Linked DNA regions of Homo sapiens. The protein of the gene in region 5 interacts with the protein of the main gene of each other region in a pairwise test. Each region holds a gene or a part of one and is shown on either strand. Other genes may lie near its edges.

The links.
Region 1: the proteins of NPBWR2 (region 5) and KRTAP10-3 interact in a two-hybrid assay, tested with the Homo sapiens proteins (one large-scale study listed by BioGRID).
Region 2: the proteins of NPBWR2 (region 5) and KRTAP6-2 interact in binary tests that used the Homo sapiens proteins (3 or more experiments, as listed by UniProt).
Region 3: the proteins of NPBWR2 (region 5) and NOTCH2NLA interact in binary tests that used the Homo sapiens proteins (3 or more experiments, as listed by UniProt).
Region 4: the proteins of NPBWR2 (region 5) and PSMA3 interact in binary tests that used the Homo sapiens proteins (3 or more experiments, as listed by UniProt).
Region 6: the proteins of NPBWR2 (region 5) and PHAF1 interact in binary tests that used the Homo sapiens proteins (3 or more experiments, as listed by UniProt).

The regions. Positions count from the first base shown.
Region 1 is NC_000021.9:44,557,177-44,560,712, forward strand, and holds KRTAP10-3 (keratin-associated protein 10-3), read right to left. Parts: upstream 1,620-3,536; 5' UTR 1,540-1,619; coding exon 874-1,539; 3' UTR 614-873; downstream 1-613. UniProt on the Homo sapiens protein: In the hair cortex, hair keratin intermediate filaments are embedded in an interfilamentous matrix, consisting of hair keratin-associated proteins (KRTAP), which are essential for the formation of a rigid and resistant hair shaft through their extensive disulfide bond cross-linking with abundant cysteine residues of hair keratins.
Region 2 is NC_000021.9:30,597,646-30,600,296, reverse strand, and holds KRTAP6-2 (keratin-associated protein 6-2), read left to right. Parts: upstream 1-1,394; 5' UTR 1,395-1,422; coding exon 1,423-1,611; 3' UTR 1,612-1,707; downstream 1,708-2,651. UniProt on the Homo sapiens protein: In the hair cortex, hair keratin intermediate filaments are embedded in an interfilamentous matrix, consisting of hair keratin-associated proteins (KRTAP), which are essential for the formation of a rigid and resistant hair shaft through their extensive disulfide bond cross-linking with abundant cysteine residues of hair keratins.
Region 3 is NC_000001.11:146,221,993-146,226,117, forward strand, and holds part of NOTCH2NLA (notch homolog 2 N-terminal-like protein A), read right to left. Parts: intron 1-4,125.
Region 4 is NC_000014.9:58,268,719-58,273,005, forward strand, and holds the end of PSMA3 (proteasome subunit alpha type-3), read left to right. Parts: intron 1-1,699; coding exon 1,700-1,767; intron 1,768-2,215; coding exon 2,216-2,280; intron 2,281-3,132; coding exon 3,133-3,177; 3' UTR 3,178-3,286; downstream 3,287-4,287. UniProt on the Homo sapiens protein: Component of the 20S core proteasome complex involved in the proteolytic degradation of most intracellular proteins. This complex plays numerous essential roles within the cell by associating with different regulatory particles.
Region 5 is NC_000020.11:64,104,570-64,109,437, reverse strand, and holds the start of NPBWR2 (neuropeptides B/W receptor type 2), read left to right. Parts: upstream 1-1,872; 5' UTR 1,873-2,074; intron 2,075-2,515; 5' UTR 2,516-2,606; coding exon 2,607-3,608; 3' UTR 3,609-4,868. UniProt on the Homo sapiens protein: Interacts specifically with a number of opioid ligands. Receptor for neuropeptides B and W, which may be involved in neuroendocrine system regulation, food intake and the organization of other signals.
Region 6 is NC_000016.10:67,130,102-67,134,226, reverse strand, and holds part of PHAF1 (phagosome assembly factor 1), read right to left. Parts: intron 2,942-4,125; coding exon 2,898-2,941; intron 1,782-2,897; coding exon 1,702-1,781; coding exon of another isoform or gene 1,411-1,701; coding exon 1,316-1,410; intron 60-1,315; coding exon 1-59. UniProt on the Homo sapiens protein: Plays a regulatory role in autophagic activity. In complex with BCAS3, associates with the autophagosome formation site during both non-selective and selective autophagy.

The DNA.
Region 1 (3,536 bases), on a different chromosome or scaffold from region 5:
TTTGTCGGCTACATGAGAGGGTTCCTCACATAAGGCAAAAGAAAACACACCTGTCTTAGAGGCCTCAAAAATGCCCACAAATACTTTCCAAGGACAAAGGTGGTTACTCAGCTGCAAACAGTGAAGCACACAAGGAAACGACACCATGAGCGAGAACTGGTGGAAATGACAGAAAGCTGAAATGGACCCACAGAGACTTCAGGCATTGGGATGACCGTGCACAGATATTTGAAATAAGAGATCAGCTCTAAAATGTCTTCCAGGAATGAGAAATATTTATTTTATTTAATAAGAGAGGGCTGGTGAGAAGATGATGAGTGGGGGTCAGACAGGCAGAGGAAGGAGAGAGGGGGAGGAGCTGAGCCCAGGGAGAGGCCGGGCCGGGTGGGTGTGGGGGATTCACAGAGAAGCACCCCCGGGGCCTGGAGACGCTGAGGCTGGCAGGAGAACCCCACAACAGCAGACCCCGCACAGCGGGAAGTCAGGACTGCCTCCGCCCCTGGTGCTGTCAGCCTGGATGCAGCTCAAGGCCAGAGTCCCGAAGCTCCCACCCCACGCGGCACGTTGAAGTTCTTCCCACAGGGTTTGCCAGATATGCAAAAAAGACCTCTGAGAGGGCACATTGGTGACTTTATTTGTTGACAGACTGATCACTCACATGGGGCAGGACACAGTGACCACCGGCTGGCCAGCATGGAGATGAGGGTGTGGGAGAGATGCATGCCTGGAGGGAATCGGCATGAAAGCTCAGCATTGCTGGCTGGAGGTGCAGTGGCTATGGGCAGAGGAGACTCAGACAGGGCTCAGGGCTGCAAGGATTTTCGGAAGTCAGAGATGGCCCTGGAACAACTCTGGAGAAACGGGACCTGCCCGTCAGCAGCTGGACTTCTGGCCTGAGGAGAGGCCGCAGCACGCGGAAGAGAGGCGGGAGCACGTGGGGCGGCAGAGGAGGGACACGCAGGAGGCCGGGCGGCAGCAGCTGGGCTGGCAGGTGGAGGCAGGGGCACAGCAGGAGGGGATGGGCACACAGCAGGTGGACCTGCACACGGGGCGGCAGAGGAGGGACACGGAGGAGGAGGGTCTGCAGCAGGAGGTGGTGCAGCAAGCCGGCTGGCGGCTAGACTGCTGGCAGCATGAAGAGGAAGCCCCAGAGCAGACGGGCACACAGCAGATGGGCTTGCAGCAGACAGGCTTGCAGCAGACGGGCACACAGCAGACTGGCTTGCAGCAGACAGGCACGCAGCAGGCCTGCTGGCAGGGGGAGGATGTGCAGCAAGCTGGCTGGCAGCTAGACTGCTGGCAGCACGAGGGCGTGCAGGAGCTGGTGCAGCCTGACTGGCAGGGGCTGGGCTCACAGGCCGCCTGGCAGCAGGGGCTGGACACACAGCTCACTGGGGTGCAGACCAGGGTCAGGCAGGGGGCCGGGGCGCAGCAGCTGGTGGCGCAGCAGGGGGGCTCACAGCAGCTCTCTGGGCAGGCGTCCACCTGCCAGGAGTCAGAGTAAGCGCTGGAGCAGACGGACATGGTAGACGTGGCCATGCTGGGGTGGGGAGGAGGTGAGCTGGGGGAGACGTGAGTGAGTGAGTGTGGGAGTGAGTGAGGGAGTGAGTGAGTGATCGTGCCAGGCCTCTGAGTGGTCGGAACCTTTATACCCCTCTGTGTTGATTGTGCTGCCCCTGCCTGGCTTCGAGAAGCCTTCCTCTTCCTTGTTGTTGTTGTAGGCACTGTTGTGTTAGTAGTGTTGGTTCATTGTTTGTGGATGTTCTGGTTTGTGAGGCTCCTGACTGGAGTTAGGGCTTCCCTAATGTGGGCTTGTCCACAGAGATAAACTAGTAGAAATATATTGATTGCATCAAAGCACACTGCAGAAGCAGGGACAGTGGCAGTTAGGAGATATTCTGGAATTGACAGCCCTCTGCTCCATCCCAGGAGGAGTTTGCACTTAAAAAAAGACTTCTACACCTAAGGAGGGATGAGGTTAGGAGAACCTCAGTTTCTGGGCCTTGAGGAAAGGGAGAGATGTGTTCTGCTGTGGACAAGTTTGAAGATGCTCAGTTGGCCTGGCCACACGGCGAGATCCACCCTGTGGGTTGACACTGCTGGTTGTCAGTGGGAACCATGGGGCATATTTCTGCTGGGGGTGAGCCCTGGGGCAGGTGTGAGGGAATAGTGTCTTCCTGGGCAGAGATTGGCTCGCAGAGGGGAGCAGGGAGGCAGCTGCAGGCCCAGCACAGTAGGGATGGAGATGAGGGGCAAGCACCTTTGTTTCATTTCACGTTGAACTGTTATGGGGCCTTCCCCCGGTGGTGTGCACAATAGTGTTCACACCTTCTCCTCTCACATCTCGGGCAACATCACCTGCAATGGTGTCCTTGGGAGCTCCAAGGTCTCTTCCCTTATGGGCCAGAAAGTCATCAGAATGTATTAGTTCTACTGTTGGCTCCTGGACATTGTCATAGTAAATGTACAAATAAAAGGGTCTGATTGCAGAGCCTTGTCTCACAAATACCTATACACCTGTGTGTATCAGCCCATGCCTGTGCCCGGGACCATACCTGTGCGCTAGTAAGCCCCCAAAGTTCTGATCATGGATCCCTCATCTCCTCACTCTATGATCGCTATTTTCTACTAAATCTTTGAAATGGCAAAGGCAGAGGCTCTGATGATGCTCTAGGCTGCAGGGCTTTCCAAAATTAGGCCAGGGGTCCACTGAGTGCTTGGTGGGGGCCCATAGGCTGCAGGGTTTGAAGCCTCTGACCTTTGATGAGTATGGCTAAGGGCTCTGTTGGAGGACTACCTGGCAAAGTCAGACTACAGTGGAAAAATATTATTTCATAGAAATAATAGCTGGACACAGACTGGCAAATTGGATGAAGAGTCATGACCCGTCAGTGTGCTGTATTCAGGAGACCCATCTCACTTGCAAAGACACACATAGGCTCAAAATAAAGGAATGGAGGAAAATGTACCAAGCAAATGGAAAGCAACGTAAGCAGGGGTTGCAATCCTAGTCTCTGATAAAACAGACTTTAAGCCAACAAAGATCAAAAAAGACAAAGAAGGGCATTACATAATGATAAAGGGATCAATTCAATGAGAAGAGCTAATTATCCTAAATATATATGCACCAAATATAAAAGCACCCAGTTTCATAAAACAAGCTCTTAGAGACCTACAAAGAGACTTAGACTCCCACACAATAATAGTGGGAAACTTTAACACCCTGCTGTCAATATTAGACAGATCAATGTGACAGAAAATTAACAAGGATATTCAGAACTTGAACTCAGCTCTGGATCAAATGGACCTAATAGACATCTGCAGAACTCTCCACCCCAAATCAACAGAAGATACATTCTTCTCAGTGTCACATGGCACTTATTCTAAAATTGACTTTATAATTGAAAGTAAAACACTCCTCAGCAAATGCAAAAGAACTGAAATCATAACAAAGTCTACCGGACCACAGTGCAATCAAATTAGATCTCAAGATTAAGAAACTCACTCAAAACCACACAACTACATGGAAATTGAAC
Region 2 (2,651 bases), on a different chromosome or scaffold from region 5:
TTCATCACTTTTTGTGGAGCAATATCATTCTCTTTGGTTTATACTTCACATGTAGCTATCATTTTATATATGATTCTAAACCGTGGCAAAGACTTTGATTTTTGACTTCGTTGATTCTGGGTATATAGTAAGAAAAGGACTTCTATTAAAAATCTGAATTTTAAAACAATTCCAGAATTACTCAAAGATTTATTGGCATCATGACTCCCTGAGATGGCACAAGACAAGAGTTACATCTCTTCCCAAATGTATAACCTCAATCTACATATGAGGAAACCTTAGACAGATTCAATTGGGGAATATTCCACAAAATATCTGGCTCTCTAAAATTGTAAGGTCATAAAAGCCAAGAAAAGACGAATGAACCATGAGCAATTGGAGGTGACTAAGAAGTATAAAAACCAAATGCAATGTGAATTGGATCCAAGAACAGAAAAAAAGAACATTAAAATAAATATGTGAATAGTGCTACAATGAACCATGGTCCTAGAACTTAAAATAAAATAAGTTAATAATAACAGAAAAATGGTAAAATAAAGTCTGCAGTTTAGTTAAGAATACTGTACACAGTTAATTTCTTTGGTGTGATAAGTGGATTATGGTTATGAAAGATATTAATATTAGGGATGTTGAATGATGGATATATGGAAATTTTCTATACTATTTTGACAACTATCTCTATGCCTGAGATTATTTTAAGATAAGAAGTTAAAAGAGAATATAAAACTATTGTTCCATTTCATTGACTTGGTCACTTATTAATTCTTTTATAAATCAAGAAAATAACTTACATTTTCTTGTTCTTCCGTAGAGGTTGAACATAAAGGAAAATTAGACTCACTGGTATAAGTAGAAAAATACAACAAATTTTTCTCAGATCTGGTTTTCTAGAATTTTTAATTAGTTGAATTATTATCAACATCATGGCTTTAGTATAGAAAAGACACTAAATCCCTGAAAAAAGTATTATTTGGATAAAGAGAGCAGAAATACTAAAAGGGCAAAGTTATTGTTTGCTGAATGTTGTGCAAAAGAGTACAATTAATTGGGGCCTAGAGCAAATAAGAGTGTAACTAACAAAAGTCTTTCTTGATGTAAAGGATGGCTATAGAAAGTCTAGTTTGAGGCAGGATTATATGAGTGTGAGTGTGTGAGGTCTCCTTTCATCAGAGCCCTCAATCAGATAAGGGGAGCCCAAATTGCAAGGCCAAACAAAACAAGCCTCCTTAATACCTCTGCAGCATTATCTTACAATTGAGAAAAAACAAACTAATTATATTAGTCAAAAAATTAGCCAGTGGTATGCTACCTCTGCTGGATCATTCCCATCCTGAGGCATATAAAAGGACTTCTACAGGAAGTATCCATACTGAAGTCACCTACACTCCTTCCTACCCAAGGACAACCTCCACAACCATCACGATGTGCGGCAGCTACTACGGAAACTACTACGGCGACCATGGCTATGGGTGCTGTGGATACGAAGGCCTAGGCTATGGCTATGGAAGCCTGCGCTGTGGCTATAGCTCCTGCTGTGGCTATGGTCATGGCTACGGCTCCCGCTTCTTCTGTGGCTGTGGCTATGGATGCGGCTCTGGCTACTACTATTGAGGACACCGTGGGAGACTCATCCTCTATCCTGTGACATCGGGATTCACCAATTCTGAACCCCGTATGCTCTGAGCTCGGGGCTGGATGAAGATTATCTTATATTAAAAGTTTCTGATGTGATTTATCTGAAGACTGACCCTCCCACCCCCAGTACCCTCTGGATCTAGTATTTTCAACTTCCTTTTCTGCATTTAATGCATGAAAATTAAAATAATGTAAAATTCATCCTATGAACTCCTGTGGTCTCTCATCAAGATGATGCTGTTATAGATCTTGCTTTTTGATTTTCATGCAGGAACTTATTTTCTGTTTTCCTAATACACTTTTTCAATCTGGAATTACCATCCTGATTTTCTTTTCATTAGTATCCAGTATTTATCTTTTTAGCTTTCTTCCCAATTTATGTTAACCTAACAATGTCTCAACGTAACCCATGTTATCACTGCTTCAATAGAATAGAAAACCGAGCATGAACAGAGCAGAAAACCGTGCATCATTTATGGGTTGATTATTTGCGTATGAAAATCATTTACTGTCAAACTTGTTCTATGTAGTTCATATCACAACTCTACATAAATAATTTATAATCTAAATAACCATAATTAAGTAGCATTTATTAGCCGTTTAGCATAGAGCAATCACTGTGCCAAGTTTTTAACGTACATCATCTCAAATGAGCCTCAGAATGAATGCATGATGTGTTAAAATTTTCCCCATTTTCCTGTAATCCCACCACTTTGGGAAGCTGAGACAGGTGGATCATTTGAGGTCAGGAGTTCAAGACCAGCCTGGCCAATATGGTGAAACCCCGTCTCTATTAAAAATACAAAAAAACCAGCCAGGGGCCATGGTGGTGCACACCTGTAATCCCAGCTACTTGGGAGGGTGAGGTGGGAGAATCGCTTAAACCCGGGAGGCAGAGGTTGCAGTGAGCCGAGATTGTGCCACTGCACTCCAGCCTGGGTGACATCTTTTTCAAGAAAAAGAAAAAAAAAATTGGCCGGTCATGGTGGCTCATGCCTGTAATCCCAGCACTTTGG
Region 3 (4,125 bases), on a different chromosome or scaffold from region 5:
TCAATGATTCCCACACATCTAGAAGAGTAGAATACCCTGTACTTGCTACCACATGATGCCAAGGGAAGCACACAAATTAAGTGTGACAACACACCACAATGCTCCCCCAATACACCACTAAGACAGCAGAGCTACAAAGATAGCAAATGTTAGTGCCAAGGGCTAGTGATCCTACCAGTGAATTACATGGAAACCTATGTATTTACATACACAAATTAATACAATAATTCCTTTGCTTTTCTTATTCCAAGCTATGGCTTTATCATCCCCCTTTCTTGGCTTTACTCTCCTTTTTAAGACCACAATGTATGTTCTGCCATACAGATAATATTCTCCTCAAAAAAGAGAGACAGGAGAAAAAACAGATCTACGGCAAACCTCCTACCACTACCAGTGATGCAGTTTGTCCCGTCTCAAGCCTATGAGCATATCCTTTCAGATCTGAAGCCACTTCCTTCTTCCTATCAAGGACAGTATTATCAAGTGTCTTTGTGAGAGGAGCAATCCTGTGCCCCTTCTTGCAGATTGTTTTGTTCTGCTCAAGAAGCCCTAGATTCCTCCTTTATTTTCCTTTCCTTATTTCATTTGCTGCAGCAGCCCAGAAACCCCAAAAGCAGGACCACCAGAAATGAGTGACCTTTATATCTCTCCACACTAACACATCTGAGGGAAACTGCCGACACCAAATATGTGTTCATGAGCTAATGAAGCAGAAATCCTCAAAGGAAGCACCATTTGCAACGGCTGAGGACAGAATTCTTTAGTGGACACCAAAAAGGCTGTGGAACTCCTATGCATTCTAACATCTCAGGTAACATTCTAATGGAGGAATAAGGAGGCTTACAACAAAGTCATACAACACAAACAGAAGTCCGAAAATGCTGGATTTCGCAAATTTCTTTTAAGACAAAACAAACAACTTTACTAACCTTATACCATAGCAGCTTTCTTCTCTGTACTAAGTGAGGCCAGCAAGTAGGAGGCATTTCCAAGGGGGAAAAATGACCACAGGATCTAGCCAAAGCAACCTGTCTCTAATACTCTCAAAAAACAAACAAACAAAAACAAACACTTTGATTTCCCAGATTCACTCTGCAGTGATTCTAAAACTTTCCTAATGTAAGAATCACCTGGCTATTTCTTGAACACACAAATTCCCAGATGACATTCCAGATGCACTGAATCAGAATCTCCATGAGAACACCTGAGCTATTCTTATCATAAGAGAGGTTAGGGAAACACTGCTTGATAAATGTTATTCTCCCACCAGTGCCCACCTGTGCAGGGAGGTATGAAACAAGTAGGGCTAAGATGCTTTACCTGAGCAATCACCCCAGACATGCTCCTCACTGGGTTTGACTCCTTTTATGGAGAGCTGGGTGTCAGCTCAGTAAAGTCTACAGACAAGCATCTCTTTGGGTCCCTATCACCTGCACAGGTCTCAGGACTCTGAGACAAATTTCTGAGTAGATGTCAATGAGGACAAGTCATGAGGAGATGGATTACAGCTGAATATAAGAAGATCTTTCTAAGAATTAGAGCTGGCCAAAGATGGAATAAACTGCTGTGGAGAGCTGTCTACCACAAGAGATGTTCAAGAAGAGAGAAAATATGGTACCTCTTGACTAGAATGTTGTAAACATCAGATCCAGCATGGGATGGACAGAAAGACTAGATGAATTTTAAAGTTCCCGCCAATGCATAAGTCAACAAAGAGGAAAATTTCAGCCACTCCTTAATTAATTAAAAGAGATAGCAAAAAAAGTCTGTGGGTGGGGTCAGCTTTCAACTGATCCTATCTCTTCAAAGGAAAAAAGAACATAGAAACACACTCCAACTCACCATCAGCCTCTCCTATAGAATGTTCTAAAGGTGGGAAAGCAGGAGTCACAGATGCTGTGACTAAGACCTGCCGCTCAGTTGACTCTGAATTTGGGGCACATGCCAGACAAGTTCTGTAGTACAGAGAAGAAATGTGTGTAGCACAGACCTGGCCCTCAAGGATCAAAATCATGTGGCAGAGACAACTCAACACCATGTGATTCTCTCAAATATTTATTCATCATATTTCACCTTTAGTTTTTGTCAGTAGGGTGTTCAGGGGACTCTCTTGGTTCAAAAAAAAAAAAGCAAATATACTTTACTAAATGTACATATTCTCTCAATCCAGTACAAGTTTGCAATATCCAACTCAATGAAAAAAATCTCAAAAAAAATTATCAAAATAAATATAAACTTAGTTAACTCTAATTTTAAAAATAGTATTCCAAAAATGACTAGTCCCCAAAATGATGAAATTACAATAAGGTGTGGCTATTCTGGACAAAATAACAGAAATTGCTGGCCTAGTAATACAGTAATACAGGAAGCAGTGGAAGCAAACTTGAATGAGAGGCAGGGGGTGGATGGCAGTGCCTTTGAAGTGAGATTCCAAAGTCAAAGTGACCTTTATAAATTGCAGAAGTGATCAGAAAAAGAAAGAAAGAAACCCCACACACAAAGAAATTCAAAATTACAAGTTTAAATGAAACATCTGGGGAAGGGAAAAATTTGGTTTTTCCCCAAATGTAAGGTAAGCATGACTCCTGCAAATACTATTTTTAAAATGTCTAGGAGTACCACAGTTGTCCAAAATAAGAAAGTGGCTAAAAATAATTGTTCGACTGAACAAGTATTTATTGTGTGCCTATTAGATACCAAGGCATCATGCCAGGTACAGGGGTAGGGTATGGGCATTAGAATAAACACATAAATGAAAATACACGATTCCTTCCTCATGTACGCATTAACAATAAGCACTTGAGGATGTTATAAGAGTTTTTGTGCACATAAGCGCATTTGTACACGAGATGGAAGCAATGTGGACAGTGAATGAGGCACTGGACACCAGAAGAAAGGAATTCTAGTCTCAACTCTAATTGGCTCTGTGACCATGAACAATGAACATCAGAAAATGGAGGACCAAAACAGTGGCTCTCCTACAAGGTCACCAAACCAATTAATAACAGACCTGGAGAAGAATTCTGGTCTTCTGGCTCCTAGTTCAGTGATCTGTCCAAAATACTACACATATGGTAGACTGACAAAGAAAGAAAAGAAGACCTTTTGGTTTCAAGTCATTTGCAGAGAAAGGGGGGGAAACAAAAACAGGAAAATCAGGAAAGGGTGGAAGGAAAATTAATAGTTCAAATTTAGGCATTCGAACTGAGACATCAAGAAAGGAAGCATGTAACTATGGACTGTGAACACAATATAAAGAAAATGATGTAAAATTTCTTATATCCTTATTCAAATCACGCCTTGCAGTTTTTTACTCTAAAATCATTGCAGACGTATATAGATAAAGGGTCAAAAAACAACATGTATGAATGACATTTAAGGAAAAAGAGATAACAGAAGAAAAGGGAAAAGGAGAGGTAGAGAATTTATTATATCATCTAAATATATGAAGCCCTTCTAAAGGGTCAATGCAGACATACTGCACCCAGATAAACAGAAGAAATGACATTATATTCTATATCTCTTACGTTAGCAATTTTAAAATTCTTGAGTCAGAAGTGTTAAACACTGGAATGACTAAGGTTACATTTGTTATGGAAATTTCTTAAATTTAGAAAGACCTCATACACACACCTGAAGGTAAAAAAAAAATGTACTTAATCAGTGGGTTGCAACCAAGTTACTTGTCAGAATCACCTGTAAACCTTGAAAAAATATGGATTCTCAAACTTACCTTATCAGAATCCCTGGGTGCTGAGTCCAAGATCCACCCCAACAGATTTTGATGTAGCCAGGACACAGAGTTTTTTTCTACCATAATGGGAGAGGTAGGGAGGAGGATCACTAGGAATGGCAACACAGAGTGGGAACTAGATCAATGCAAATTTTGTGGGCAAAATAGAATTTCTGTGGGTGTGATATTTTTAAAATGTATTGTAAGGCTGCTCTGAACCATCCAAGCATATCCCACTGAATTTAAACATTCTCTAAAGGTCCTGAAGTCAGCAACTACAATCCAGGTGAACCAAAAGTTGCTTCTCTATGTCATAGAAGCCTACAGGAGAGGCAGTAGGGTGGGAATGGAGCAGAGAGATCCCAAGAAGTTATGGGTAAATATTTTTTAAA
Region 4 (4,287 bases), on a different chromosome or scaffold from region 5:
TAGGTATAATGGTAGTCATCTGTTAAGTGTTCCATGTTAGGAAAGCCATCCCTTCATCATTTAAGAAAATGGAGCAGCATGTTATCTTTTACTTAGTTGTAGAAAATCAAGATCCTCTCATATTATAGCAAGGTTTTAGAAGACCCTCCAAAAAGTAAGGTATGTAACTCAGTGCATAGTATTAGATAAAGCTATACTCTGCTACTGTACTTAATTTGATACTTTTTTTTTTTTGAGATGGAGTCTCACTCTGTCGTCCAGACTGGAGGGCAGTGGCACGATCTTGGCTCACTGCAACCTCCGCCTCCCGTGTTCAAGCAATTCTCCTGCATCAGCCTCTCAAGTAGCTGGGATTACAGGCGCCCACCACCACACCTGGCTAATTTTTGTATTTTTAGTAGAGACAGGCTTTACCATCTTGGCCAGGCTGGTCTTGAACTCCTGACCTTGTGATCCACCCACCTTGGCCTCCCAAAGTGCTGGGATTACAGATGTGAACCACCGCACCTGGCCTCTTGATACTTTTTATGTTACTTTAATATGTTGCATGACAGTGCCTCCTTCTTTGCTGTAATTTGTAAGGTACTACAATGTGAAGGCCAGGTTATGTGGCATATATGCCATTATAAAATGGACAAGGAGCTTAAAAAGACTACTGCCAAGAAGCTATAGGTTGAAGAGACCACTAATAATTGCAAGCACATAAATTAGTTTTTTTTTTTTTATTTTTTTGAAACAGAGTCTCACTCTGTTGCCCAGGCTGGAGTGCAGTGTCGTGATCTCAGCTCACTGCAGCCCCTACCTCCTGGGTTCAAGCAAGTCTCCTGCCTCAGTTTCCCGAGTAGTTGGGACTACAGGCCTATGGCCACCTCACCTGGCTAATTTTTGTATTTTTAGTAGAGACGTGGGTTCACCATGTTGGCCAGGATGGTCTCGAACTCCTGACCTCATGATCCACCCGCCTCTGCCTCCCCAAAGTGCTAGGATTACAGGCACGAGCCACCATGTCCAGCCAATTAGTTGGTTTTAAATATATTTAAGTTAATGGACAAAATATTCTAAAAGGGCACAGTTAATGACGCCTCTTCCTAGTGAATCCGTGTTCTTTATGAGGTATCTTTTATAGTTGTATCTTTTTTTTTTTCTGAGATGGAGTCTCGCTCTACTGTAGCCCAGGATGGAGTGCAGTAGTGTGATCTTGGCTCACTGCAACCCCTGCCTCCCGGGTTCAAGGAATTCTCCTGCCTTAGCCTCCTGAGTAGCTGAGATTACAGGCGCCCACCACCACACCTGGCTGATTTTTGTTTCTTAGTAGAGACAGGGTTTCACCATGTTGGCCAGGCTAGTCTCGAACTGACCTCAAGTGATCCATCCGCCTTGGTCTCCCAAAGTGTTGGGATTACAGGTGTGAGCCACTGTGCCCAGCCAAGTTATATCTCTAAAGCAATGTGCAAAAATAAACTGAACTTGGGTTGATTAGGTATATTCAACATTTGTCGGGAGAGTAGATGTTTCATTTTATTTCAGTCCCTGTGTAATTTGTCTTCTCTAATGTTAAATACTATGTAGAATGTGTCTGTGTAATTTTATAGATACTTTTATTATGGATGGACATTCTAATTTGTACTGACTTTGGGTCTGTGAACTACTTCAATGTTTGGAGGTTACCAAAATCTTACCTTTCCCTTTTCTATTCTAGAATTTACATAGTACATGACGAAGTTAAGGATAAAGCTTTTGAACTAGAACTCAGCTGGGTTGGTGAATGTAAGTTATTTTTGTACATTTATTTGCCTTAGGAATGATCTGTACCACAGCTAATTTACAACTGAGTGTCCTTTCTAATATAATGAAAGCTAAAGCAAATTTACTAGGTTGTCTAATGAAGGGAAAGTTCTGCTTAATAATTGACTTAAGTTGTGAACACGTTATTTTTTGAAACATCCATTTCATGGTTTTAAGATACTATGCTATAAATTAATGCTCAGGATTTATAAATAGCATAATTTACTTTCATTTCCATAAGAACTTAATATGTAGGCACATATAATCTCATGTAGAAGCAGCACACAAAAATATTCGAGTATTACTCATAGTACAACTTTGCAACCTTAGGTGAGTCAGATATGTGGATTGGGTAGATCCTATGGTATACTGCAAGTTACAATATGGTACTCAATTTAAAATTCATTTACACATGTGGCTTAATTTACAGTAACTAATGGAAGACATGAAATTGTTCCAAAAGATATAAGAGAAGAAGCAGAGAAATATGCTAAGGTAAGCCACAGCACAAAAACTTCTCTTGGCCAGGTACAGTCAGGGAATCACTTAGCCCAGGAGTTTGAGACCAGCCTGAGCAGCACAGCAAGACCCCCATCCCTAATTTAAAAAAAAAAAAATTCTCTAACCAAAATTATGTGTTGAATAATATAAATAGACTGGGGTGGTTTCTATGAAATAACACTGAGAGTTCAGTTGAACTAAAGATAGAAATTTTCTAGGTTATCTCTAGTGGGTAAAGTTGCCTTGGTTCCAAAAAAAAAAAACTTGGGAGGTTTAGACTGCAAAGAGTTTTTTAGGACTTTTAATACTTTAAATATTTGTTCTTTTTTTTTTTTTTTTTTTTGAGACGGAGTCTTGCTCTGTCACCCAGGCTGGAGGGCAGTGGCACCATCTCTGCTCACTGCAACCTCTGCCTCCAGGGTTCAAGCGATCCTCCTGCCTCCGCCTCCCAAGTAGCTGGGATTACAGGAACATGCCACCATACCTGGCTACTTTTGTATTTTTGGCTTCACCAATAATACAGAGACGGGTTTTCACCAGGCTAGTTTCAAACTCTTGAACTCACGTGATCTGCCTACTTTGGCCCCCGTAAAGTGCTGGGATTACAGGCATGAACACTGCACCAGGCCTCTTAAGTATATATTCTATCAAAGATACAGTCATTGCATGTTAGAGCAACATTTGCTTAATTAACTTTGCTTGGGTATCTTATTCTGAAACTGTTCATTCAGTTACAAGTAGAGGAATTTAACCACTTAATTCAGGTTGTTGTAGCTTAACTTGCCCACAGGTGTGGGATATAACAATTTTAAAAATCAATTTTAAACACCTGTTTTCTCTTAACAGGAATCTCTGAAGGAAGAAGATGAATCAGATGATGATAATATGTAACATTTACTCCAGCATCTATTGTATTTTAAATTTCTACTCCAGTCCAATGTAACTATTTAGCCCTGGATTATACATACTGTCCAATTTTCATTAAATTTTTGTCTTATAACTATTGAAGTTTGGTTAATATCTGCTTTACAAAATTGGTGGGGGTAAATGAGGACATTTACTCAGTATTAAAATATAGATTTATGACTACTGAAAAATTCCCTGGTTAAAATGCTGCAGAATTAATTCCAAGACTGTAGATTAATTCAAAGCCCCATCTTCATCACTCAACTAGAATTTACAGATCATATTCTCCTGGGCTTTTGTACAAAAAGCACCTACCAACTTAGTGGACAAATAACTGATACGGTTTCCCACTTTCATATGAAGTAACTGGTGGTCATCAGTCACTGTTAATCTTTAGATGTGATACAGATGACAGATGTTTCAGTTTTGGATAATTTTTCAAAAACTGACCCTTCTCAAAAAAGACCCTTCAATACATGAGTCAAGGATGTTTTTGCTTTTTTCCTTTATTGTGGTGAGGGGCGGATTTAAGGATCAATAAAGTCCCTATTCTGTCACTAAAAAAATTTCTTGATCTCTAAAGATTAAAATAAAAATACCAACATCAGACAGCTTTCATGTTAAAAATCAGAATTTATGTTAAAGTGCTCTGTAAACAGAACTGTTACTAAGTGGAATAAACAGTACTGTGGCCGATAAGAATAACTTGAAGCTGAAAAGCAGTACTCACAGCAGGAACAATTTGAACTCAGGCCATGTATACACACCCTCTAGTGGACTCATGCCAGTGTCACTCCATTGAAGTGTTGTGCTTTCCTAAGAAGGTAATCTAGCCACTGAATTTGGGTGCAGGGTATCGCTGGACTTTGAGCATTTGTGTAGTTTAAATAGCAAATCATTATACCTGAGTATTAATAGCTAACTACTACACAAACAACTCAAAACCAGTAATGTCATGTCATTACCATGGCTTCTTTTATGTAACATTATCTGCTACATTTTACCACTCAAAATATATTTAAAATATGTATTTTAAAATATATTAGAGCATATGGCTCAAGCAATCCTCCCACCTCAGCCTCCCAAGTAGCTGGG
Region 5 (4,868 bases):
GAGGCCCAGAATCAGGCCAGCGTGGCCAGCCCCACCCCAGGACAGCAGCTCGGTGACAGCAGGCCTGGGACATTCTCCCAGTGCCCGGTGCTGAGGCCATGGTCGGCCGCTCCCCAGCCAAGACCAGTGACCGCCTGGCCCAGCCCACACCCTGGTCAATGCCTGGGCCACCACATGCCAGGCCTGGCCTCTCTGTGTCACGCCTCTGGTTTCCAGGAGCTGTGAACTGACCCCTCCCGACCCCACGAACACCCCAAATCACAAAATTCAGCCCCAATGCACCCTCTCCTCACGGCTGCTAATCACCATCCCCTGACCTTGTGGGCGTCAAGCTCCACTTATGTGACAAACTGTGGCTACAAGCCCCACGCTCCCTCGAGACACACCCACAGATCCCCCCCACCGCCATCCCCAAACTGGCTGAAGAGGAGTGTGAGATATCTCAGCAGGGTTCCCTGACCCCGGACTCAACATCCACATGGCACAGCCCATAGAAGGGTAGCTCGGGGCCCACCCACAGTGTACCCTCAGGCTGGCGACATCAGGGTACTCAGGGCGACTGCCCAGGCTCCTGTCCTAACCAATAGACTTGACAGAGCAACTCTCAGGAAAGAAGGCCGACCATGAGTGTGCGGTGACATCCTTGCAACCCCACAGGCAGCGGGCACAGTCTCGATGGGCAGACACATCTCCCCAGACTGAAAACACACAGTGACCAGGCACGGTGGGTCATGGCTATAACCTGAGCACTTTGGGAGGCTGAGGTAGAGGCTGAAGCTCAGGAGATCGAGACCAGCCTGGGCAACATGGTGAAACCCCGTCTCTACAAAAAAAAACACAAAAATTAGCCAGGCATGGTGGCACATGCCTGTAGTCCCAGCTACTTGAGAGGCTGAGGTGGGAGGATCACCTGAGCCCAGGGAGGTCAGGGCTGCAGTGAGCCATGATAGTGCCACTGCACCCCAGCCTGGGTGACAGGGCAAGACCCTGTCTCAAAAAAGAAGAAAGGAAAGAAAACACAGACCCTCTGACCCAACACGTCTCCGCTGAGGAGCGGCTCTGAGACTGGCGACTGCTCGTGTCAGCTGTGGCGTTGCCTGCAAAGCAGGTCCAGATGCGGCCGAGCTGCACACACACGGGTTGGATAAGCCAGGGTGCGTCCAGCAAGGAAGAAAAGCAGGGAGAAGGGAAGGACTTAAAGACCAACCCAGAGCAGAGTGTGATGCTCACCACCTCTGCAGGACGGCGGGAGAGTTACGTGTCAGCGTGAGAACGTCTTCTCTGCAGCCTTTCACAGCTTGCCTAGGCTGAGTTCCTCTTTTAGCAAAAGACAAAAAAAGAAGGTGGGTTGCCTATGGCCAACAAGTTCTGCTTCCACATGAGGGCATACAGACCCCCCAGATGCCCACACTCAGCCAAGGACATGTAGACCCACTCAGATACAACGCAGAGCTCACCCACAGAGACCCCCATACAGGCAGACACAGGCCCACACACGTACATGTCCTAACTGGCACACACACACAGGAACACACCATGTACACACACAGGGTGGGGCAGGAGACCCACCAAGACACCCATGTTCACAGATAAGGGTGCCCAGGCCCACAGTGACTCCCGGACAGAGGCACAGATGCCTTCAGTGCCCTCTGCCCGAAGACCTGGGCACACCCAGAGGCCCCTGCATGGAGTCCCTTCCTGACACACAGGCGCACACGTGCCTCAGCCGCCCACTGAGGAGTCTGCCTGGGTAAGTGAATGCTGAGGAGACCCTGGGACAGCCGACTGCAGGCGCTACTGCAGCTCAGGGGAAGGTGGGGCCTGCCTTCCGGGCTCCACGTCAGCAAGGGGGATCCGCCTCCCTCCCTCACCAGCATCAGCACTGACACCAGGCTGGGAACCTCGCAGCCGGGGCTGAGGCAGCCAGCAGGGCAGGTCTTGAAACTCCTGAAACCTCAGCTGGAGGTCTGTCAGTGAGGACCACACCTCGCCCTCCATCCCTGCGACTGCCTGTACTGGCCAAAACCAGGAACACACCAAGGCTACCAACTTCTGGACTCGAAGCACTGGACAGGTCAGTGGAGAGAAGAGTAGCTGGACCAGCAGGGTCTGCAGCATCTCTCGGGAGGGTGTGAGGGAGGGTGCAGACTCCAAGACCCCTGAGGGAAGGACCTTCAGATTCAAGGGAGCCAGAGATGAGCTTGGGAGGTGTGTTTCCAAAGGGACCGCTTGATTCTACGCAGCCCGTGCATCTGCGGGTTGCTGGGGCAGGGACGGATCCACATCTCTTCCCAGGAGGGTGGCCAGCAGCTGCTCTCTGCGGGAGGAGGGAACTGATCTGCTGAAGTCTCACCAGGAAGAGGCGGGAGGAGGCCCCCACACACCCCACCAGGCTCCCTCTGGCCCCATGTCCTTGACCTGGCAAAGTGGCCGCAGTCTCTGCCAGAGAACCTGGAGTGGCTGTGCCCTAACAGACGGCCGGATCTCAAAGTCTCTGGTTGTTTTTCTTTCCTAGAATCCAGCCCAAGGAGGCCCCCAACCAGATACCCAACTCCAAGGCACCTCCCACCTGCCCAGGGCGCAAATCGTCAACGGTCCCAGCTACAATGCAGGCCGCTGGGCACCCAGAGCCCCTTGACAGCAGGGGCTCCTTCTCCCTCCCCACGATGGGTGCCAACGTCTCTCAGGACAATGGCACTGGCCACAATGCCACCTTCTCCGAGCCACTGCCGTTCCTCTATGTGCTCCTGCCCGCCGTGTACTCCGGGATCTGTGCTGTGGGGCTGACTGGCAACACGGCCGTCATCCTTGTAATCCTAAGGGCGCCCAAGATGAAGACGGTGACCAACGTGTTCATCCTGAACCTGGCCGTCGCCGACGGGCTCTTCACGCTGGTACTGCCCGTCAACATCGCGGAGCACCTGCTGCAGTACTGGCCCTTCGGGGAGCTGCTCTGCAAGCTGGTGCTGGCCGTCGACCACTACAACATCTTCTCCAGCATCTACTTCCTAGCCGTGATGAGCGTGGACCGATACCTGGTGGTGCTGGCCACCGTGAGGTCCCGCCACATGCCCTGGCGCACCTACCGGGGGGCGAAGGTCGCCAGCCTGTGTGTCTGGCTGGGCGTCACGGTCCTGGTTCTGCCCTTCTTCTCTTTCGCTGGCGTCTACAGCAACGAGCTGCAGGTCCCAAGCTGTGGGCTGAGCTTCCCGTGGCCCGAGCAGGTCTGGTTCAAGGCCAGCCGTGTCTACACGTTGGTCCTGGGCTTCGTGCTGCCCGTGTGCACCATCTGTGTGCTCTACACAGACCTCCTGCGCAGGCTGCGGGCCGTGCGGCTCCGCTCTGGAGCCAAGGCTCTAGGCAAGGCCAGGCGGAAGGTGACCGTCCTGGTCCTCGTCGTGCTGGCCGTGTGCCTCCTCTGCTGGACGCCCTTCCACCTGGCCTCTGTCGTGGCCCTGACCACGGACCTGCCCCAGACCCCACTGGTCATCAGTATGTCCTACGTCATCACCAGCCTCAGCTACGCCAACTCGTGCCTGAACCCCTTCCTCTACGCCTTTCTAGATGACAACTTCCGGAAGAACTTCCGCAGCATATTGCGGTGCTGAAGGGCCTGGGCACCATCACCCCCATCATCATGCCCATCATCACCCCCCATCATCATCACGCCCATCATCATCATGCCCACACCCCCATCAGGCCCACCCCCCCCCACCCCCACCACCACCCCCACCATCACCCCCACCACCACCCCCATCATCACGCCCATCATCATGCCCACCCCCATCACATCCACCATCACGCCCACCCCCATCACCCCCACCCCCACCATCACGCCCACCATCACCCCCACCCCCACCCCCACCCCCATCATCACGCCCACCCCCCCCACCACCCCCACCATCACCCCCATCATCACGCCCACCCCCACCCAGTTCCGGCTGTCTCTTTCAGGGGACGCCCGGCCTGTTCACATCCCAGTGCTGTCCTCTCCACGCAAGGAGACACAGACCCTCACACGCTGGCCACCAGACCTACAGACAGCCGTGGGCATATACCTCCCATGTCTCTGCTTCCTGGACAGCCCCTGGGTGGACAGCAGCAGGGATCCAGGTCCTGGCAGAGGCCCCCACACAGCAAGCATCCCGGGCCCACTTACCCACGAGAGACAGACAGATGGACAAGCCCCTTGGAAGGCTCTGGGACTCAGGATCCCTAATGACAGTGGTCGGGAGGGGAGGGAACCTGAACTGTGATCTTGACCTGGGCCACGTTACATAGTCTCTCCCCAAGATGGGGCCGGGGGGTGGTAAGTGCGGGCACCTCAGGCAGCAGCGATGCTGTGTTGCTGCAAAGGCGGACACCTGCACCGCATGAGACCCAGAAATCCACTCTCGTGGCCTGAAGCCCAAGTGGAGTTCCAGCAGGAGGCCCAGCCCCGCCGTGCCCATGTGCCATGGCCTGTGCTGCTGTGTTCCCCCTGCTGTGGCCGACGGTCCTTGCCATGGCCTGTACCCGCCCTGCTGTGTCCGACAGTCCTCTCCATGGCCTGTGCTCCCCTGTGCCCCCCTGCTGTGTCCGACGGTCCTCTCCATGGCCTGTGCTCCCCTGTACCCCCCTGCTGTGGCCGACAGTCCTCACCATGGCCTGTGCTCCCCTGTGCCCCCCTGCTGTGGCCGACAGTCCTCACCATGGCCTGTGCTCCCCTATACTCCCCTGCTGTGGCCGACGGTCCTCTCCATGGCCTGTGCTCCCCTGTACCCCCCTGCTGTGTCTGACGGTCCTCTCCATGGCCTGTGCTCCCCTATACTCCCCTGCTGTGGCCGACGGTCCTCTCCATGGCCTGTGCTCCCCTGCTGTGGCCGACA
Region 6 (4,125 bases), on a different chromosome or scaffold from region 5:
CGTTTTACAGTTGCTCCATGGGGTATCTGGAGAGAAGCCAGGCCATGGGCAAAATTGGGCTGCAAACAAAGGTCAAGAGTTTTACTTAGGGCACAACAGGTGATGGGACTCAGGCTCTGGTCTTCCCTGTCACTCATGGTCTTCAAGAGCTGCTCAGGTCAAAGGGTCAAAGTACACCCTTAAACCTGGCTCTCTGGCTCTGGGTCAGTAAACTCCCCAAAACCATGTAAGTCCACCTTTAATTCTGCTTGGTTTTCCTTTTCTTTTTTTTTCTTTTTTTTTGAGACGGAGTCTCACTCTGTCACCCAGGTTGGAGTACAGTGGCATGATCTCAGCTCACTGCAACCTCCACCTCCCAGGTTCAAGTGATTCTCCTGCCTCAGCTTCCTGAGTAGCTGGGACTACAAGTGTGCACCACCACAACCAGCTAATTTTTTTTTTTTTTTTGAGACGGAGTCTCGCTCTGTCGCCCAGGCTAGAGTGCAGTGGCATGATCTCGGCTCACTGCAAGCTCCGCCTCCCGGGTTCACGCCATTCTCCTGCCTCAGCCTCCCAAGTAGCTGGGACTACAGGCACCCGCCACCACACCCAGCTAAATTTTTTGTATTTTTAATAGAGACGGGGTTTCACCATGTTAGCCAGGAGGCCCGCCTCGGCCTCCCAAAGTGCTGGGATTACAAGCGTGAGCCACTGCGCCCGGCCTGTTTTTTTTTTTTTTTTTTTTTAATATTTTTGGTAGAGACAGGGTTTCACCATGTTGGCCAACGTGGTCTCGAACTCCTGACCTCAAGTCATCCGCCCGCCTTGGCCTCCCAAAGTGCTGGGATTAGAAGCATGAGCCACCATGCCCGGTCAGTTTTCCTTTTCTTCATAGGGGAAAATGCAGAAATGCTTCCTTAATTAAAATAAGTCTTATGAAAGCTTATCATTTTCACAGCCCCTAGGATGAATGAAATGTTTGCAAAAACAAAGGTAACTGAAAATCCAGAGGATGAAATCTCCAAATTCTAGGCCACCAGGAAAACTGTTGATTAGGAGCTTGAAAATAAGGAATGAATGAACTTATCTCTGAAAAGTGAGCCTGACCTCACTCCATTGTGGGAAGTATCCTCTTCCTCGGAATGCCAGCCTGAGCATTGTTCTTCCTCTGTCAACCCACCCACTCTACCACTTTACCCTGTAGAGCTCAAATACATGGAAACCAAAGAAAGTCTGCCTATCTAATACCCACTCCTCTATTCCCATCCCATGACACCATCTGCTGAGCCATACCACAGACACATACAACAAACACCAGGGGACAGGAAGGGCTAACCTCATACTTTGGAGCCTCAGTCCATGAGTCTAACTGAAAAGAGAAAGACAGTCCTCTGAAGTTGAGATGGAAGAGCTGCTCAGCGGAGTTGTACACTGTTGGGGGTGGGGGAGAAGAAAATAACATGGTTGACTGGCATCTGAAATGGCTAACATAAACCAGCCTGGCAGGGAGTAATGACTGACAACACCTTCCCTGTGGCTTGTTTCTAAACTGGCCTACTAGGTTGAAAACAAGGGGGAGGATGTTTCCTTCACACCCAAGTACCAACCCCACAATCCTATGGGAGCCTGACTCCAGGAAGTGGGGTGGGATGGCACTACCGGGCAGGTTTATTGCTATGAACTGCCACTGATGACCAGAGGAATCAGATGGACTTGGCTTACCTCCAGGATGGGTTGCGCCAAAAGACTGGTCAATCTGTTCAATGGTAGGAGCTATGGCCTGAGAATTAAAATGCACGCCACTGAAAAACAAAAATATTTTTTAATACTAGGCTTCACAAGATGGGCCCACAGATCATGTGAGATAGTAGCTGGGAGAGTTATTTTTAAGACACAGGCAGGTGAGTCTCTAATTATATCAAAATACAAAGCTTAATTAGAGAACTTTTAAATAAGAGCATTAATGAGGTCAGGAGAAGGTCAGTTCTCATGAGGCTGATATACAGAGTTGATCCTCTGGGGCTTTATGACACCAGTGACTCTTAAGAAAAGGGTAGAGAAGAGAAGCCACCAGACCCTGAGGTATGAAGGCCCCAGTAAAACTAAAAGACAACTAGAACCTGCAGGGGCCAGTGGTACCACACATTTGCTTGTCTACTCCTCTATCAGCAAAACTGCCTGAGCCTGCCCCAGGAATCAGGTCCTCTTCACACCCTCAAAAAGGGAAAGGGAAGCCAGTTAAGGAGACTTACTGAAAGGAGTATTCTATCGCTTGAACCCAGGAGGTGGAGGTTACAGTGAGCTGAGATGGCGCCACTGCACACCAGCCTGGGTGACAGAGAGAGACTCCGTCTCAAAAAAAAAAAAGAAAGAAAGAAAGAAAGGAAGGAGTATTCTAGATTTTTAGATGCAGGCATGCTGCCTTGCCATAATGGGGGCGCAACAACTTTGGACTGTGCATGTCATCCCCGCTGTAATTCTAAAAAATACATTATAGCTCTAAAATGGTGGTCTCTTTGGCATTCTCTTCAGCATAGGCTTTGGAGTCAGACCTATCTGGTTTGTCCCACCTCTGTTACTCATGAAAACATGAAAAGAGGTGCCAAGAGAGGCTGTCAGCGGGAGGGCAGCTATGACCCAGGAGACTGTCACATCACCTCTGAGCTGAGGTCTGGCTTTGTCAAGTGGATTAAGTTAGATGACATATACATGAAGTGTTAAACACATCACATATTCTTAATGAGGTTTACTTCTCTTCTCCAGGAAACTGAGCAGGCTTGAAGGTTGCCTCAGGAATTCATGGCACCAGGCTATAATTCACATCTGTGACAGATGTGAATCTTTACTAACTTATGAAGATAGTAGATATGGCCTGTCTATACCAAGTGTGACATATACCAGCAGGGGAGAAAACTTACCAATATTTTAACTTTACTTTAGTCAAATCACATACTTCGATCACCTAAAAAAAAGTTTAAGAGTTGTCAATGCTCTGAAAGTGATGACAGACTAAAAATGATTAAAAATACATTTATAGAATAAATAGTAAAAAAAAAAAAAAAAAAAACTATTACCAATAGAAATTTTATGGAAGCACTGCATGTTATCTTTTGTTCTCATTTAAAATTTTTTTAAAAACTTTTTGTAGAGATAGAATCTTAGCAAAACTAAAAAACTATGTTGCCCAGGCTGGTCTCAAACTCCTGGGCTCAAATGATCCTCCTGTCTTAGCCTCCCAAAGTGCTGGGATTACAAGCATGAGCCACCATGACAGTCCTTTGTTATTTTGAAACCAGGGAAAAAACCAGTTTCCCCTTCAGCATAACCATAGCCAGTGTCCCCTTCAGCATAACCTCTTAGCTTCCCTCTCCTAGTGGACTGCTCAACAGATGTCCATGGATGCTCTGGGTCAAGGCTCTTACATGCAGTCCACTTCTGGGTCAGGCTGGAGCACACACCACCCTATAGGACAATGATCTCTTCCACAGACATGAAGCTTGTTAAGGCTCTGCTTTGGGCACTAAGCCCCCTTCCTCCCATCTCATATTTTGCTGCATTTTAAAACCCAGGTCGGGTTGCTTTAGAAAATAGCTTATTTTAGCCGGGCACGGTGGCTCACGCCTATAATCCCAGCACTTTGGGAGGCCCAGGTAGGTGGATCTCCTGAGGTCAGGAGTTCCAGACCAGCCTGACCAACATGGTGAAATCCTGTCTCTACCAAAAATACAAAAATTAGCTGGGCGTGGTGGCACACACCTGTAATCCCAGCTACTGTGGAGGCTGAGGCAGGAGAACCGCTTGAACCCAGGAGTTGGAGGTAGCAGTGAGCTGAGATTGCGCCACTGCACTCCAGCCTGGGTGACAGAGCGAGACTCCGTCTCAAAAAAAAAAAAAAAAAAAAGGCCGGGCACGGTGGCTCACGCCTATAATCCCAGCACTTTGGGAGGCCGAGGCGGGCGGATCACAAGGTCAGGAGATTGAGACCATCCTGGCTAACACGGTGAAACCGTGTCTCTACTGAAAAATACAAAAAATTAGCCAGGCGTGGTGGTGGGCGCCTGTAGTCCCAGCTACTGAGGAGGCTGAGGCAGGAGAATGGCGTGAACCCGGGAGGCAGAGCTTGCAGTGAGCGGAGATTGCGCCACT